2 linked regions of the Homo sapiens genome follow. The protein of the gene in region 1 binds, or shares a complex with, the protein of each later gene. Each region holds a gene or a part of one and is shown in the gene's direction. Other genes may lie near its edges. The genes, in order: MAP3K3 and CCM2.

Region 1 (7,789 bases):
TGGGAGAGGGATGGACAGATTGGAGACTTGTTCAAGACTGGCTGTGGGGGAAAGAAATGGAGAGAAAGAGCTATCTGATCATTCGAAGGTATCCAACTTGGGAAACTGGAGAGGGACAGAGAAAATACAGAACTATGGGGGAAAATGGTTTCAGTTTGGACCCAAAATTGGAGGTTCCTGTGGGACACCCATGTCTGTGGAGTTCAGAAGAAAGACATCCCTGAGCTAGAGACACAGTTGAGATTCTGGAATCCTCAGCGCATATGGTAACTGCAGTATGGGAATGTTTGAGATGGCTGGTTGAGACACCGACAGTGCAAATGAAGCCACAAAGAAGGCAGTTGTAAGAAAGGTAGAAGGTAAATCAGAAGGTTGTTTTCAGCTAAAGACTCAGGTAGATGTACTGCGGTTCTCCATGTGTGAGGCACTATTCTAAGTGCTGGTGATAGAGCAGTAAGCAGGACAAAATTCCTGCTCCTGCATACCTTATGTTTGTGGTAGTTGGAGTAGAGCAAACAAATAAATATATAATTTTAGCCACTGAGAAAAAAAAACAAGGAAAAAATATACAAATACAGAATGATGGAAGGGAGGGGTCATTTTGGATGGGGTGATAAGAAATGACTTAAAAGCAGACGTTTGAGCAGAGACTTGAATAAACTGCAGAAATGAGAACATCTTGGCTTGGTAGTTTCAAAGAATGGAAAGAAGGCCAGAGTAGCTAGAGGACAGTGATGGAGGGACAGGATGGAGGGGCCAGCTCCTATTGGGCTTGGCAGGTCATGACAAAGAATTGGGGTTTTATTCTGAGTGTGATGGGAGGGAAGCCATTGGAGGGCTGACAGTGGGCAGGGGGTAGGGTGGCGTGATCTGAATTACATTTTACAGGGATCACTCTGGTTGCTATTGGGGAATCATTTGTTGGGCTGCCACAGAGGAAACAATGGAGGCCAGATAGGAGTCTGGGGCAGTCATTCAGGAGAGTAGGTGGTGGCTTGGATAAGGGGGGTGGGATGAGAAGTGGTTGGATTCAGGTGTGTGTGTGTGTGTGTGTGTGTGTGTGTGTGTGTGTGTATTTTTATTGTATTTTTTTTGGAGACAGGGTTTCACTCTATTGCTCAGGCTGGAGTGCAGTGGCACAATCTCGGCTCACTGCAACCTCCGCCTTCTAGGTTCAAGCGATTCTCCTGCCTCAGCCTCCAAGTAGCTAGGATTACAGGCCACCACACCTGGCTAATTTTTATATTTTTAATAGAGATGGGGTTTCACCATATTGGCCAAGCTGGTTTCGAACTCCTGACCTCAGGTGATCCACCTGCCCTGGCCTCCCAAAGCGCTGGGATTACAGGTGTGAGCCACTGCGTCCGACCTGATTCAGATACATTTTGAAGTGGGAGCTGAAAAGATTTGCTGCATGTTTGGATATATGGGTGTCAGGGAGAGAGAATAATCAAGGAACACTCCTAGGTTTGTACAGAGGGTCTCTGACTTACTATGGTTCGGCTTATACCTTTTTTTTTTTTTTTTTTTTTTGAGATGGAGTTTTGCTTTTGTTGCCCAGGCTGGAGTGCAATGGCATGATCTTGGCTCACTGCAACCTCTGTCTCCCGGATTCAAGCAATTGTCCTGCCTCAGCCTCCCAAGTAGCTGGGATTACAGGTGTGCGCTACCACGCCCAGCTAATTTTTTATTTTTAGTAGAGATAGGGTTTTACCATGTTGGTCAGGCTGGTCTCGAACTCCTGACCTCAAGTGATCCACCCGCCTCAGCCTCCCAAAGTGCTGGGATTACAGGTGTGAGCCACTGTGCCCCGGCCTCAGCTTATGATTTTTGGCGTTATGATGGTTCAAAAGCAACACACAATTCAGTAGAAACTGTGCTTTGAGTACAACCATTCTGTTTTTCATTTTCAGTACAGTATTTGGTAAATTACATGAGCTATTCAAAACTTTCTTATAAAATAGGCTTTGTGTTAGATAATTTTGTCCAACTGTAGGCTAACTTAAGTGTTCGAGCACGCTTAAGATAGGCTTGGCTAAGCTATGATGTTCAGTAGGTCAGGTGTATTAAATGCATTTTCTACTTAACGATTGTTCATCTGATGGTTTATCTGGACATGGCCCCATGGTAAGTCGAGCAGCATCTGTGCTTTAGCAATTGGGAAAACAGAAAGGAGCATGGCAGCTCACACCTGTAATTCCAGCAATTTGGGAAGTTGAGGTGGGAGGATTGCTTGAGCCCAGGAGTTTGAGACCAGTTTGGGCAAAATGGTGGGACACCCCCAACTCTACAGAAAATTTTTTTTACAAAGGCTCTACTCTACCTGACAAAATCTTATTCCTTAGTATTTAATTTCTCTTCTTAGGGAGAATTTAAATTTAATTAAGTAATTTAAATTAAAATTTTTTCCTGGCAGGGGTGGATAATGAAAAAAAGGTTGAGAAACACTGGCCTAGTGCAAGAACATGGCCTTTGGGAGTCACACAGGCTTGGTATGAATCCTGGCTCCACTACTTGGACACAGTGCTTAACCTCTCTAAGCTTCACTTTCATCATTTAAATGCCCACAGTATTAGCATAATAACCTTAGAGTTATTGGAAAAATTAAATGCAATGACGTGCCTGTTATATTGATAAATACTAATTTTCTTTCCCCTTTATCCCCGCTTTCAAGAATAGAGATTATTATAGTTAAGGAACTCCAGTAAACTGGGTAGAGACCAAATCAAGTGGGAATATGGCAGGCTTAAGCTTGTTGGAAGAAAAAGAAAACAGGACAAGGGGGCTGATTAAATATACGGAGATGAGTGTAAAGAAATAAGGGAGGCTGCTTGCAGTGGCTCACGCCTGTAATCCCAGCACTTTGGGAGGCCGAGGCTGGCGGATCACCTGAGGTCTGGAGTTCGAGACCAGCCTGGACAACATGGCGAAACCCCGTCTCTACTAAAAATTCAAAAATTAGCCGGGCGTGGTGGCGCACGCCTGTTAATCCCAGCTACTTGAGAGGCTGAAGCAGGAGAATTGCTTGAACACGGGAGACGGAGGTTGCAGTGAGCCGAGATCGCGCCACTGCACTCCAGCCTGGACGACAGTGTGAGACTCCATCTCGAAAAATAAAAAAGAAAAAGAAAAGAAATAGGGGAGAGCCCAAGGTAATTCTTAAGGGATTTGACACTCAAGGCAAAGCCACCACTAAATGTTCTTAGTGGACAGTGGACAATGACATCTGAGGAAGATTATTCTGGAGCCTGACATATTACACTGGAACAGAGGCCGGAGAAAGGAGCCCACATTAATTGTGGTGGACTTGGAATCTGAAGATCTGAGTGTATAAAATGTTGAACAATGAAAAGGTTGGGGAAATTAATTATGGTGCCTTTAATTTTGAAACATCATGCAATCAGTACAATTGTTTTGGAAGGATATTTGGTGGCACGGGAAAACAGAATAAAATGTAAGCATACTACAAAACAATACAAAGCCATTTTTGTCAAACGCCTATCTAGGTAGGAAATAGATTATCTCTGGGGTGGGATCTTTTCTTTTTCATAGTTTTCTGCATTTTTCAATTTTCCTACAAAAAGCTCGTGTTGCTTTTATAAGAAAAAAGTTATTTTCTGAAAGAACCTCTGGCGGAACTCAGATTTCCAGGGACCCACATGCCAGCACTATCCCAGCCTCGGGTGTCTGAGGTACCTAGACCAGAGGGTGTGGCCCTGGAGGTGTGAGACAGGGAAAGCTGGGCTGGGCCGGCCGCCCCTGCCCGGGGCAAGAGCAGCGTCGGGACCGGAGGACCAGTCGGGGGATGGGGCCGCAGAGGTGGCCGCGCGCCGGGAAGTGCTCAGGCCAGACCCTCCCCACTCGTTACACGCCCTGTGCTGGGCACGGGGAGGAGCAGGACGCCACCCTCTGGAACCACCCAGATCGCTGGGGCCTCCGAGAACCCGGAGGGCGGAAGGCCTGAGGGCCCCCTGCAGCCGCCTACTCCTCACCCCAGCCCTAAAGTAGCCGGCGGGGAACTGCGCCAGCCCGCGCGCCCGCCGAGCCTTCGGTGACTGACGGGAGGTGGGAATGTGGGCGGAGCCTCACGCCGGAGCTGTGATTGGAACAACCAACACCTCCCAATCTCTCCCAAGAGAGGGAGACAGCACCAGAGAGGGATGCGCAGAGGCGGGGGCTTAGAGGCCTCTACGTGATTGGCTAACAGCGCAGGGAGCCGGGCGCTGTCCCGATGATTGGCAGGCGCTAGACAGCCCTCGGAAACCGCCTTGGCTTCGCCCATTGGCATCCTGTGAGAGTAGGCGGGATTGGTTCATCGTGTGGTGCTGATGATTAGCTGGCCGCTGAGAGTTAGGGTGTTGGGAGAGAGTTGGAGGGGGACGGCGGGGGCTGCCGACTTCCTTCTTGTTATTGGCTGGTGAGGTGGGTGGGGGTGGTGCGACGGCCCAGCGGCTGCCTGGGATTGGTGGGGGCCGGCGTGAGTGACAGACAGGGGGGCGAGCTGCGCGACCAGCGGTTTGTTTTTCGGAGCGTTCCTGAGGTGGAGAACGGTGGCCGGACGGAGAGACTGCGGGTCTGAGGGACTGGCGGGCGGGCGGGCCGAGCGGCGCCGCCGAGGCCGGGCTGGGCCGAGCCCAGGAGCGCCCGGGATGTAGCGGGCCACCCTGCCGATGCCACAGCGCCCGGCCGCGGGCGGAGCCGGAGCCGGAGCCTGGGGAGGCGGCGGGGGCCCAGAGCGCAGCCCGCGCCCCCCGCGCGGAGCCAGGCCCGCTGCCGTCCCCGCCGCCCGGGCCCCCGGCATGCAGCCCCGGCTGCGGAGGTGACACTCACGGACCTTAGCCACCGCCGCCGCCATCGCCACCATGGGTAAGTGTCGCCACCGCCCCGGCCTGTGCCCGCGCTGCTTCGCGACGCCCCGCCCCAGGCTGAGGGAGGAGGACCCTGGGCCACCGCCTGACAGGCATGGACAGCCCGCCCGGCCCGGGGCTGCGGACCGCCGGCCGGCCGGCCGCCCGCCCCGCTCGCGCGCCGCGGCCCGGGCGGGGGTTCTGGCTCCGCGGGGCGGCCCGGCCGGCAGAGCCCGCTCGGCAGCCCTCCTTCTGGGCGGCGCGGCGGGCGCATCCCGGGGAAGCGGCGGCGGGACCGAGGGCCCGTGCTCCGCGGGGCAGCCTGGTCCGAACGAGCCGGACCGCGAGCCCGAGGGCGGGGGAGCAAGAGCGCAGTGTGGGGCCCGGGCTGGAGGCTGCCGCAGGCCCAGCTGCTGTTGTGTCTTTTCCTTGATTTGCTTTTTTTTCCTGCCTGTGTCATTTCCTTCCCTTTGCTCACACAGGCCGGCCTGTGAGAGTTCCCGGGGCTTGCTCTCCAGCCCTGTGCGCGCCCCAGCGCAGGGGGGAGGGCGTGCGGGGCTCGGCTAGGAGGCGATTAAACTGGAGCTGTGATCAAGCGCGCGGTTGACAAATGCGTGCTGCACGCAGATTGCTGGGGGTCAGGAGTTGGTCGGATGCTGCCAGTTAGAATTCACATCCTACTTTTTGAAAAATCCCGTTGCAGGGGTTTAATCCATTATTTTTTTCTTGCGGTATCCCTGAAATTATGTAACTTTTGAAAGAAACATTTGCTACACAAAAGAATTTCTCTGAAATCACTTCCTTTTTGTCAGTATTTACAATTTCTACTGTGAAGATGTAATCTAAGGAAAGCTTTTAATGTCTTCCGCACGTAGCATTTGAGTTGAATTATATTCCATATCCTTTTTGGTAGTTTAGCAAATGACTACTGGACTAGACTAAGAAATAACATTTTAAACGTTCTTTACTTCTCCTGCCCAGACAGGTGTTGTGATACTGTTGTCACAAGTTTTGCAAAATATTTGGTATTGCCCTAAATAATAATAAAAGGGTAAACTTCAGTGAGAGGATCGTTTGCAAAACGTTCCGTTGCTTCTGTGAAGTGCCCCATGTGAAGAGGGAGCCTTAATGTTTGCCTTGCCCTATAGCAAGGTCAAGTCCTTTTTGTAGGAGGTTAACTGTACGCTATGTCAAATTCGCCAGATATTGTTTTGTGACCCATCTCTACACCCTGGCTTTGAATGAATTGCCTTGTTCTAGTTCATGCTGTCCCTCATACAGTATGAGAAGGGTTTGTTCATTTGCTGGGCTTACTGTTTCCTTCTCATGCTTTCCTTCAGAAGTGCGTGCTCTTCTGAGGGAAGGTCTGCTGTGAGAGTGGACATAAAAGGAACCCAGTAAGGCCTGGTATTTAAATATATAATTGAAGAAATGTTTATTGAATTTTTTTATAGATGAGACACAGAATTCTTGTCTACCCCAGGATTCAAACATTTATCTTGTATTATAGATTTTGAATAAATCTTCGAATTGATTTATGAGCCTGTATTGTGATAGTCTTTCTTACAAGTCTTTTTTCTTGTCCTGTGGGGGCAGCTGTTAGTCCCAAAGGAGAGTGTGAAATACTTAAGGGTATGTAGACCATCCACTTCCTACTTTGTTGACTGCTACACCAGTTAGAGTGCCCACATGTGTTGACTACATCTCATTATCTAACATGAAAATAGATATGAACCTGTTTTCACATTTCAAGACATTTTCAAAAAGTTTATAAGTGTGTGAGTATATGGAGACCAATGATGGGGAGGAAGGAAACTATATAGGCTGGGTCTAGAGCCCCAAAGAAAAAAGGGCCAGGACCTCAGGATCTTCTCATTTGTCCCCACATCAGTTGTCCTCCTGTCAGTTTTACGTGAAGACACATGTAAAAGGAACATGCAAGAGGAATTAACTTCCCTGGTGGCTGCAGTATATTAGGCAAGCTAGTTTAAGAACCACTGCCCTAGCTTTCTTCACTTTCCCCCATACAATTCTCTCCATCTTTTTTGTGAGGGGAAAGTAGATGACCTTGATACACTGTTAGAGCTAATATTGAATTCTTCTTGACACCTGGCTGTTCAATTTGCTTTGTATAGAGCTCATTGAGGATATGTATACACAGATACATTCACACACAGTCTCTCTCTTAAATACTAGTTTCCATTTTGGTGATGAAAATTTGAATTTCCAGTTTAGTTAGTTTGCTTTTAGTTGCTGTAGTTCTAAATAAACTCAAAGGATTGATAAGAGAGAAACATAGACTTCTTAGTATTTTAGTTATACTTGTTAAACTCCAGCCTCATGAAGAAAGGACTAAAACTTGAGTCTCTGCCCTGCAGGTTCTTTGGTTAAGTAACAGTCACATTTTCCTGAGCTGTTCTAAGCCCAAGACTGAAGCCTGTTTGACAACTTGGGTTAATAAAAACATGTCAGATTTTATATTGTCTGTTAGCCCCAATGAATTTCTAGTGGAAATTATTTATCTCTGTAAATAATAGGAAATTTTTTTTTTTGCTTTGATACTATGTGGCTATAAAAAATTGGGATTGACTGGTTGTTTTTTCTTGGTCACTCCAGAATTCATTTCCAGATTTAGTAATCATAGTGGCAAATGCTGTTCATAATACCTGAGATTGTTTATGTGGTCTTTTTATAAACGCAGTCTGAAACTTTATATATCACTGAAAAATATGTAACAACTTGGAAATGCTACAGGAAACTATAGTGAATGGAGTACAGGATTACAGATGATCTGGTTCTGGTTTGAAGTCAGAATTATTGTGACTTACAGACACCTTGTCTAGGGTTCCAAGGCTGTTAGGAGCTCCCTGTTAGAATAGTCTCAATTCAGTTTGGCTAGAATCTGACCACCTATGTAGACTCTGAATAGTTAGCAGCTGTTT
Region 2 (4,034 bases), on another chromosome or scaffold:
CTTCCAGCCCATCTCTGCCACCACCTGGGGCTCTGTAGTAGTTCACCCACTCGCGCTCTCCATTCCTGCCACCTCCCCAACCCTGGCTCCTTCCCCTGCCCAACAATGCTGCCCACTGCCTTGACCTGTGTACTCCCTCTCTTCACTCAGAGCCCAACTCAGAGCCATGCCCCCGGGGAGCCCCAGGACCAGGCCAAGCTGACCACCCTGCATGCCCAGTCAGCTCTCCTCTCATCATCATCATCATCACTTACATTCCTCTGTTCAAGGACAGGGACCCACACACACGGCATGGACTAGGTTTCCTGAAACGTGTGTGGGATGGAGGGTCGGGGAAGCCACCCGCTCACATACCACATTCTTTCGCAGCTGCTTCCCTGAATCTGTGGATGTGGGTGGTGCATCACCCCACAGCAAGACCATCAGTGAGAGCGAGCTGAGCGCCAGCGCCACTGAGCTGCTGCAGGACTACATGCTGACGGTAGGCCTCCGCTGCAGGGACGCTGGGCTGCATGAGGGAGGGGGTGCCCCAGGGAGGATGGGGGGAAGGGGAGGAGGAGGAGGAGCAGTGCAGGGCAGGCTGCAGTGAGTGAGGTCACCTAGAGCACTCTTGGTCAATTTTGCTGACATCACTGCCTTTTCCTGGGGATAGTCTAGGAGAGCATCAGTCAGTGGGGCTGAGTTGGGAGTGCTGTGGCCGTCAGGGCTGGACTGTGGGCCTGTGCTTGGGTCCTGGGGGAGGGGAGGGAACGGTGGCCCCTGCAAGGCCACATGGCCAGACATTTTTATCCTCCCCATCTTATATAGTTCTGTCATTGCAAACTCAAGTCTTCCTGATTTGCCTGTGTGCCTGTGTGTAGCCTAAGGGCACAGGCATTGGCCCCGGGCCAGGTTGCCAACTTCCACCCTGCCCTGCTGGCTCCTGTCCCTCCCATGCACTCTGTGTTCCAGCTCAGGAGAGTGGAGCTGCCCGGGTGCCTTGGTCTCCTCTGGGTGGCCCCGTGCCAGGTCTGGTAGGATGGGGACACATTGTGGTCATTCTGATGCCCCAGCCTGTGCAGAGGTGAAGCCAGAGACAGCTGGTGCTCTGGCTGGGGTTAGTGGCTGTGGCAAGGTGGGCCCGACTGCCGACTCTTGCCTACTGTGCCCAGCCCCCTATCTGGCTCTGCTCTCTTGCAGCTGCGCACCAAGCTGTCATCACAGGAGATCCAGCAGTTTGCAGCACTGCTGCACGAGTACCGCAATGGGGCCTCTATCCACGAGTTCTGCATCAACCTGCGGCAGCTCTACGGGGACAGCCGCAAGTTCCTGCTGCTTGGTGAGTGGGCCCTGGAAAGAGGGTGGCTTGTCCAAACCTGGCTTGGAGAGGCTGATCCCTCCTGGGAATGTGCACACGGACCCCTCAGTGGGTGCAGCAGGGGCTCCATCAGGGATGGGAGATTTGAACCAGAGATGGCATGAGAGCAGAGTCCAGAGATCGGGGAATCTGCTGTGATTAGTCAGAAGGGCTTTTCCCAGGTACTGTTGGGGGCCCACCGACAGGCCTTCATTCTCCTGGGAACTCAAGCTGAGCTGGGTGGGCCCTGCCAGGAAGTAGCAGAGATCCCCCAGGAGCAGGGCTGGGAGTGAACACAACCCTGAGATTTAGGAAAACAGTGCTGGAGGAGCCAGAGAGGCATGGGTTTTGGTGAATGTGTAGGACTTCAAGGCGGAAGGACCAGCGTTTGCCAAGACCCCTAAAATGCTCGGCACATTAGGTCAGTGCGGCTAGAGGGCTGTGTGGTCTGAGCAGCAGAGTTGGATGTTGGCCCCACACCTCTCAGGGGCGGTGACTTAGCTGTGGTTTCCCTCTGCCGACACTTAGAACACAGCAAGTTTGCGGTAATGTGTTGCTAGTAGCCAGTTGAAGGCTTCTGGGTCCTGGCCTGTTTTCCCTGCAAACCAAGGAAGGTGGGTTTGTTAACCATCGTACCGACCTGGCAGTGGCAAACGTGGATTGCCTGCCCAGGGCTCCCCGCTCTTAGGAGCGTGAAGGGCTGGAGGCTGGGGCAGCCTGTCTGTACAATAGGTTCTGTCTAAGCAGTGCCTGCCCCTTCTGTGCTGGGCCCTGCGTTGCCTCCTGGCATGGGACTCTGTCTGCCCCTCCACATCGGGGAGTAGAGATTCTGAGAGACACACTAGGCTTCCCAAATAAGAGGGCAGCCCTCTGAGTTGGGACAGTCACCTAGGTCATGGCAGGGAAACTGGACTTTGGCATGAGGCCTGCCTCTGAGGACTGCACCCTTGTTGCCGGGTGCCAGCAGGTGGCTTTGAGCACTGCTCTGGGCCTCAGCTTTCCCCACTGTAAAATGGGTCCTTTGTGAGGACTAATAGAGAATGAGAGGAGGCCACAGGTTCTTGGCCTGTGCTGGTGCCTTGAGGCCAGGGAGTGTGCATGTGGCAGAGGCAGTAAGCTGTCAGGGCCAGCAGCAGTGTCTGTCAAGAGTTGAGGTTTTAGCCAAACTGTCTGGCCCCAGGAAGCATGATTTCAACCAGGATGCTAGATGCAGTGAGCATGGCATCAGGGTCCCCAAGGCCATGCACCAGGGGCAGCTGTGGCCCTGTCAGGGGGCTTTGAGCCCTGAGAGAAGAGCTGAGTGGGCTGAGCCGAACTGGAGGTGCCATGCTGGGTGTTGTGTGTCTGCAGGTCTGAGGCCCTTCATCCCTGAGAAGGACAGCCAGCACTTCGAGAACTTCCTGGAGACCATTGGCGTGAAGGATGGCCGCGGCATCATCACTGACAGCTTTGGCAGGCACCGGCGGGCCCTGAGCACCACATCCAGTTCCACCACCAATGGGAACAGGGCCACGGGCAGCTCTGATGACCGGTCGGCACCCTCAGAGGGGGATGAGTGGGACCGCATGATCTCGGACATCAGCAGCGACATTGAGGCGCTGGGCTGCAGCATGGACCAGGACTCAGCATGATGGACAGTGGATGGGGGGGCACCCACACCTTCCGCGCAGTCGTCATAGGCCTTCCCAGAAGGAGCTGCCCAGACCTGCGTGTCAGCCCTTGGTGGTGGCCAGGGAGAGGCGCCCGGTGCAGATGGCCCCGGGCGGCCCAGGTCCTCTACTGTGAAGGAGCAGGGAGCTGCCGAGGGACACGAGCCTCAGTGCGGGGTGGAAGGCTCTTTGCCTTGTCCACCAGGGCTCAGCCAAGCCCTGCAGTGTGTCCCCGCTCGGGGAGGGCCCGGCCGAGCGGGCAGGGAGAGCCAGTCCTGTCGGCTGGGCCCTTGGACGGCTGTCAGTTTTGCACATGATGTTCCTATTGTAACTCTCAGAGACCTTAAAAAGAAGTTTACTGCAATGTGAATAATTTAATCTCTGGTTGCCAAGCATGTTTCTGATCCAGTTGGGTGAAAGCCATCGGTGCCAGGAGGGGTGTCCGCTCTAGCCTCTGTCCCTGGGTCCCCATCTGCCCTGCAGCACCTGGGACTCGGCAGTGGTCCCTGGGGGCTGGGGTGGAGGAGGCAACAGGCTCTTGTGCCACAGGAAGGACTTGATTTGGACTTGAGCAGTGTGGATGTGGGGCAGGAGCGGGTGTTCTGAGGCCTTTCGTGGGCAGCGTGTGTGAGGGTAGCGTGTGTGGCATGTGTTGGGGGCACCTTGATCTTTACATCCTGTGCACTGAATCCTTCAAGGTCACTGGCTGTGCCCCGCACCCCCCCTCCCCCCAACCCCATGCTGCAGGTTTTTTCCTCAAGCAGCCTGCACTACCCCGTGGAACAGAAATGCTCTCTGAGATCTCGTCACCTTGGAGCCTGGGGGCTGGGTCTTCAGAGGCCAGTGTGCAACTCTGCCGACCCTCCCTGTGCCGTCATTGTGGGCCTGTCTCCATCCTTGTCCCGTGAGCTCTTCTCCCCAAACCCTGTTGGCCTTGGTCTTGCCTATACCCTTTGGGCCCTTACAAAGCTTCCTTGGATATGGGAAGGGGAGAAGAGGTGACCTGGGTCAGGTTGTCCGGAGCCTCTCCCTCCACCGGAGAGCAGCCA

The links.
Region 2: the proteins of MAP3K3 (region 1) and CCM2 are in contact, whole or in part, in a crystal structure (PDB 4Y5O), measured with the Homo sapiens proteins. Residues at the interface, in NP_002392.2 of Homo sapiens: Asp2, Glu3, Gln4, Ala6, Leu7, Ser9, Ile10, Met11, Asn12, Asp13, Leu14, Val15, Ala16, Leu17, Glu50, Asp82, His84, Met86, Asn88, Glu89, Leu90, Ser91, Ile92, Leu93, Arg117, Leu119, Leu121, Ser122, Gln123, Asp124; in NP_113631.1 of Homo sapiens: Leu299 (codon at 461), Tyr302 (codon at 470), Met303 (codon at 473), Leu306 (codon at 1,180), Arg307 (codon at 1,183), Ser312 (codon at 1,198), Gln313 (codon at 1,201), Ile315 (codon at 1,207), Gln316 (codon at 1,210), Gln317 (codon at 1,213), Phe318 (codon at 1,216), Ala319 (codon at 1,219), Ala320 (codon at 1,222), Leu321 (codon at 1,225), Leu322 (codon at 1,228), His323 (codon at 1,231), Glu324 (codon at 1,234), Arg326 (codon at 1,240), Glu333 (codon at 1,261), Ile336 (codon at 1,270), Asn337 (codon at 1,273), Gln340 (codon at 1,282), Leu341 (codon at 1,285), Leu353 (codon at 2,689), Phe356 (codon at 2,698), Pro358 (codon at 2,704).

What each region holds. Positions count from the first base shown.
Region 1 is NC_000017.11:63,617,898-63,625,686, forward strand, and holds the start of MAP3K3 (mitogen-activated protein kinase kinase kinase 3), read left to right. Parts: upstream 1-4,519; 5' UTR 4,520-4,862; coding exon 4,863-4,866; intron 4,867-7,789. UniProt on the Homo sapiens protein: Component of a protein kinase signal transduction cascade. Mediates activation of the NF-kappa-B, AP1 and DDIT3 transcriptional regulators.
Region 2 is NC_000007.14:45,073,091-45,077,124, forward strand, and holds the end of CCM2 (cerebral cavernous malformations 2 protein), read left to right. Parts: intron 1-369; coding exon 370-481; intron 482-1,179; coding exon 1,180-1,318; intron 1,319-2,686; coding exon 2,687-2,967; 3' UTR 2,968-3,363; downstream 3,364-4,034. UniProt on the Homo sapiens protein: Component of the CCM signaling pathway which is a crucial regulator of heart and vessel formation and integrity. May act through the stabilization of endothelial cell junctions. May function as a scaffold protein for MAP2K3-MAP3K3 signaling.